Regions from separate parts of the Homo sapiens genome. Here region 2 is linked to region 1. The links come from fine-mapping of genetic effects on gene expression. A gene starts in region 1. The other region holds a variant in brackets. All regions are shown on one strand. Distances are between the middles of the regions. Region 1 holds the start of STARD7 (StAR related lipid transfer domain containing 7). Region 2 overlaps STARD7-AS1 (STARD7 antisense RNA 1).

Region 1 (2,909 bases):
TATTTTAAGTTGCATTTATAAAAGTTATCTTTCCTGCTAGGAAAAGTATTCCCAGTTCTTAAGATAGACTTGCATTTACCCACAATTCATAGTGTGGCACAAATAGCTGCCTGGCATCTGGGTGTTACACCTCCCACACAGGCCATGGTATAAACTTTATTGGGGTATTTCCATTTTTAACCTAACAAAAAATGTGGAATAACAGGTTGTTTCCCTGTGGAGGAAATATCAAGAATAAACAGGCGAGTGTGGAATCTGCGGAGGGAGGGGATTGTCTCTGGTTCCCGAAATCACGGCAAAGTACTTTCTGTGCAGGGAGGGCACAGTTTAAGAATATCTGTTGCAAAGAAAATACAGACACAAGGTAAACCAAAAACCAAAGCAAAGTTTCCCCATGACATTACCTGGAAACTACAGTCTCAGAACTACAGATTAACAAACGTAATCAATGGTACTGGGCTTTTCACAGTTTTGATGACGACAGCATGACTTCAGAGTCTAATGGGACACTATTCCCAAAGTTCTAGTTAACGTCGCAAAAATCTGACCTAATTCTTACAGGTTCAAATGTCTGGGCTGCTGGTTTGTGTAACCTGGACAAAATCGCTTCCAGGCTCTCAATTTTGCCACGAGTCACGATGACAGAGGGCTCTCCTGGCTTTTCTCACAGGCCTGAGTCCCATCTGGATTGAAGTCATTTTGCAAATAGCAGCCCACCACCCTTAGGCCAAATTTAAAATTTGTTTTGAATTTGCACCTTTCTGGTTGTGTTAAAGATTACAGATTACATGAACAAGGGCCTCCATGCCTTCGCTATCTAATTGATTTCTACAGTGTTGTTTCTTTACTGTCTTGCTCGCCCCACTCAAAGTCTCCCTCCTACACACCAGCCTACACACTTTCAGTTCTATTTTATAACCCGACAAATGCAAATTGACACACAGAGACAAATAACAACGCGGTTTGCTGAAGCAGGTTCAATCGACTGTATTGCCAATTAAAAGACCACCGGGTAAACAAGGGCCAACGACCACAGGGCAGGCCCCAGGGTTCACAAGCCCCCCCACCCCACGGCCCAGAAAGAGCTCGCCGCAGCGCCCACCTCTGCAACTCCTCCTCCTGGATCCTCTCCTCGTCCCAAACGAAGACGCCGGCTAACGCCGCCATCAAGGCAGAGGCATGGCCAGGACGGCCGTGCAGCCGGCGCCAGAGGCGGCCGAGGAGAACGCGGCGTGAGCTCTCGGAGTAGAGGCGGCCGTAGAGCTGCGCGATCTGCTGCGCGCGCCGCACGCGCAGGCCCGTGACGAAGCGGCACTGATTGGCCAGAAGCGCCAGCAGGCCCCCGCCCCGCGTCCCCGCCAGCCAGGCGGCCAGCAGCCTCCGCGGGAGCATGCCGCCTCCCGCAGGGCCCGCCGCGAGCTTCCGGGGCCCAAGGAACCAGTCCGGAGGGGCGCAGGCGGTGGTCGCAGCGTCCCCCTAAATGGCCGGCCACGAACCCGTCTCACGGTCCCGCGGCCAGGAGCCGCCGCTCATCTGTCTCTGCAGCCACCGCTGAGGAAGAGTCTCCTCTGAGGGGAGAGTCGGTCATGGCAGCAGACGCCGGGATGGCTCCGCGACTGCTACACCAGGCACTCCTGGGCCCGGGCAGCAGACCAGTCAGCCCTGTGGCTCCTCGGCGACCTCCAGCGGGCGCCCGGGGCCGGGATGCAGGGCGCGCGGACAGAAACGAGACAGACAGCTCAGGCCCAGCAGCACGCAAGCTCCCGCGCCTTCCGCGACTGCCACACGCGCGGCGCGCGCGCACCCTACTTTTTCTCCGCCACCTGGGCCGTGATTGGGCGCGACCTGGGCTCCTGGGTGCTCATTGGCGCCGTGAAGTGCTCGTCACCGCCCCCTCCTGCCCCTTCATGCATGCGCGGAGGCCGCCTGCTAGCAAGGTAGGTGGCTCGGCGGCGAGAGCCGTCAAGGGCGCATTGGAGAGTGACCCTCGGACCCGGCTGCCGCCGTCGCCGCCATCTTCCGGCCGTCCCAGCCCCGCCCCGCGGAGAAACCTGGCCAGGTTCCTGTTAGAATCCTGCCAGGTGTTAACTTGTTTTAAGAGGCCGGCACGCTGGCCCCCTTCTTTATTAGAGTGCAGGGTGGGGGCGGGGCTCCGCATGTCTCTGCGGGGGCTGGGGGCTCCCAGTGATAACCGCCATTGCAGAATTAAAACTGAGACAGTGAAAGAGATCTGACCTAACCAATTCCATCTTGCTTCTGTCCTTGTTCATTCCTGAGCTTAGGTGAACTAATTTTGGGAGGAACTTAGTTTATAGTTTAAAATAAAGAGGATAACAGCCCTTTCCCAAAACAAATCTTCTTATCTGGGAACTAGACTGCCTTTGTAGGACTAATAAGTTAGCCATAAGATTGGAAATTATGGTTTAGGAGTCATGCAGCTGGAGGCTACGATATTGTGATCCCCCTAAACTGCTCTTAAGATCAGTGCTTGAGATATTTTGCTGACCCCGCACTGGTTGGATCCTGGCACCACCCAGATGGATAAACTGGCTCATCTGACCTTGTGGCCCCCACCCAGGAACCAACTCAGTGCAAGAGGACAGCTTCAATTCCCTATTATTTCATCTCGACCCAACCAGTCAACACTCTGGACTCACTGGCCTTCCCCCACCCACCAAATTATCCTTAAACACTCTGATCCCGGAATGCTAAGGGAGACTGATTGAGTAATGTTGAAACAAACTCCAGTCTCATAGTGGGCTCTGCGTGAATTACTCTTTATTGCAGTTCCCCTGTCTTGATAAATCGGCTCTGTCTAGGCAGTGGGCAAGGTGAACCCATTGTACGGTTACAAATTTGGGGGTTCGTCTGGGATACCCCTTGTGGCTACCTGTCCATGGTTCGGTAGC
Region 2 (2,909 bases), 22 kb after region 1:
TTTACCCTTTTCCAATCATGTTTCTCTAATGTAGAGCTACAACTCTGACCATCTCTCCTTCTAGGTAAAATGAGCAACCACATGCACCAATCAAAGTTTTGCCCACTCGGAAGATTTCCTTTGACCACTGTTCTCAGGACCACCTTGAGTGGGGTTATAACAATATGTGATGCAGAAACATCTGTAACAAGGAACCAGACTTGAATTTTTTTTTTTTTTCCTTAGGCAGGGTCTCACTGTCGCCCAGGCTGAAGTGCAGTGGCACGATCACCACTGCACTTCAGCCTCAACCTCCTAGGCCCCAGTGGTCCTCCTGCTTCAGCCTCCCAAGTAGCTGGGATCACAGGTGCATGCCACTGCACCCGGCTATTATTATTATTATTATTATTATTATTATTTTGTATAGGTGGGATCTTACCATGTTGCTCAGGCTGTTCTCGAACTACTGGGCTCAAGCAGTCCTTCCGGCTGGGCCTCCCAAAGTGCTGAGATTATAAAATGTAAGCCACCGTGCCCAGCCAGACTTGAATTTTTTTTTTTAATTTTTACCTCCTTGGTCAACTGGTGATAGGTGATTTCCCATGAGGCCATAGATGTGGGTTGAGAGAGAATAGGCAATGTAGCAGGAGTAGTTACTCAGAGAACTTGCTTCTGCATTTAGGACCTGCTCAGACCCAATCTCATTTATACCATTTCCATTTCATAATGACTCCATCATTAAGTAGATGGAGTGCAACTTTCTGGCTTGATGAGTCATATAATACCCAATTTAATTTATCATTAATAAATAATGATATTTAGGCTTAGCTCAGGACACTTGATAATTTGGTGGCCCACAGCCAAGGGCTTTAGTGTCCACTAGGGCCAAGTGACATGCTCGAAGCTGTATCTCAAAAGGAGAATAGTTACCTGCAGAAGATAGTATTGTGTTTCTTCTGATTTCATCTTGAGGCCTCTTTCTGGAGAGTGGCTGTAAACTCTAGCCCTGTCCTGACTCCAGGGCCCCAGGAGAGCTGGCCATGGATGTTTGCAGTGCGCCATTGACAGGATACTTCATTATCTGGCAGATGGCCTAATTCCTAAGTGTCAGACCCATGACCAGGTGTCCGTCTCACAGGAAACTTGTTGATACTGGCAGACACCTGTGTGGCTCTTGTCTGACTTGTGTCCAGTTTATTCCTACCAAGATAGCCACTCTGTAGGAGAACCCTCTATGGAATGAGAGTTGGGTTCAGGTATGATGGTCAGGTGAGTTGCAGAGGAGGCAACACAGCAAAACACATGAAGTAACAGAAGCAGTGTATTGCTTACAGAGCTCTTACAGAGAAGAGGGCAGCACGCCTCTCAGGGCCAGTGGGGAGAGAGCTGGCCAGGACACACGTGCTTAGCTGGGGAGCAGGGAATGAGAGAGAAAGCAAGGGGCCTGAGGGCTAATGTCTGTATTGGGTCCAGGCCATTACCCAAGCAGGTTTCCTGAGAGGAGTTTTTGTTTTTTTTGTTTGTTTGTTTGTTTTTGG[T/TG]GGGGGGGGGGTTGGTTTTTGGTTTTGTTTTTTTTGTTGTTGTTTTTTTTTTGAGACAGAGTCTCACCCTGTCACCTAGGCTGGAAGGCAGTGGTGCAATCTTGGCTCACTGCAACCTCCGCCTTGCAGGGTCAAGTGATTCTCATGCCTCTGCCTCCCGAGTAGCTGGGATTACAGGTGCCCACCACCACACCTGGCTAATTTGTGTATTTTTAGTAGAGACATGGTTTTGCCATGTTCCCCAGGCTGGTCTCAAACTCCTGACCTCAGGTGATCCTCCTGCCTCGGCCTCCCAAAGTGCTGGGATTACAGGCATGAGCTGCCATGCCCAGCGGGTTTTTGGTTTTTTGAAATGGTCTCATTCTGTTGCCCAGGCTGGAGTGCACTGGCGCTATCACAGCTCACTGCACCCTCTACCTCTCAGGCTCAAGCAGTCCTCCCACCTCAGCCTCCTAAATATCTGGGATCACAGGAGTGCGCCACCATGCCTAGCTAATTTTTAAATTATTTTTGGTAGAGACAAGGTCTCGCTATGTTGCCCAGGCTGTCTCAAACTCCTTGTCTCAAGCAGTCCTCCCACCTTGGCCACTCACAGTGTTGGGATTACAGGCGTGAGCCACTGCATCCGATAGGAGTTCTAACTGGTAAGTTTAGAGCAAGCAGGCACAAGTATCATGGGGTCATGCTGTGACTCAGAGGTGGTCACTGCAGCATGTCTGGGCAGTCCATGTGGGGCGAGGGGGTTGGAGCAAGTCACATATGTAGTATCTAGGTGTCCACAGGGAAGTGGTCATCAGGAGGTGGTTGTATAAGGCAGGTATCTAGATTGATCACACTGAGGAGCTAGGAGGAGGTGGAGAACTGGACAATGTGTCAAGGGTGACTGAGTCCTGCTTTTTATATGAGAAAGGCTAACCTGTATTTAAAACAGATGCTGAGACAACATACAATTATAAAAATTTCGCCAGGTGCAATGGCTCATGCCTGTAATCCCCACCCTTTGGGAGGCCAAAGCTGGAGGATCACTTAAGCCCAGAAGTGTGAAACCAGTCTGGGCAACATAGCAAGACATTGTCTCTACAAAAAAAAAAATTTTTTAAGTTAGCCAGGCATGGAGGCACACGCCTGTAGTCCCAGCTACGTGGGAGGCTGAGGTGGGAGAATGGCTTGAGCCCAGGAGATCGAGGGTGCAGAGAGCCATGCTTGCACCACTGCAGTCCAGCCTGGTGAGACAAAGTGAGACCCTATCTCAGAAAAAGAAAAGAAAATATCCTGAGTTGCAAATGCCCTGAATACACCTAACCTACAGGACATCATAGCTTAGCCTAGCCTACCTCAAACATGCCCAGAACACTTACATTGGCCTACAGTTGGGCAAAGTGATCCGTCCAT

What was found.
Region 2: its variant is fine-mapped to the expression of STARD7 in regulatory T cells (Schmiedel 2018, PIP 0.95).

What each region holds. Positions count from the first base shown.
Region 1 is chr2:96,207,043-96,209,951 of GRCh38, forward strand. STARD7 (StAR related lipid transfer domain containing 7) reads right to left here and starts at 1,785. Exons shown (of 8, transcript NM_020151.4): 1 at 1,103-1,785. The coding sequence starts at 1,392. It overlaps STARD7-AS1 (STARD7 antisense RNA 1), which reads left to right and starts at 1,374. Exons shown (of 4, transcript NR_046322.1): 1 at 1,374-1,937. RefSeq lists silencers at 1,202-1,461, 1,812-2,031 and an enhancer at 1,479-2,069.
Region 2 is chr2:96,229,313-96,232,221 of GRCh38, forward strand. The region is part of intron 1 of STARD7-AS1 (STARD7 antisense RNA 1); the gene reads left to right. Among named protein-coding and RNA genes, the nearest start is that of SNORA112, 16 kb to the left of the region's middle. The variant T/TG (reference allele first, on the strand shown) is at 1,518.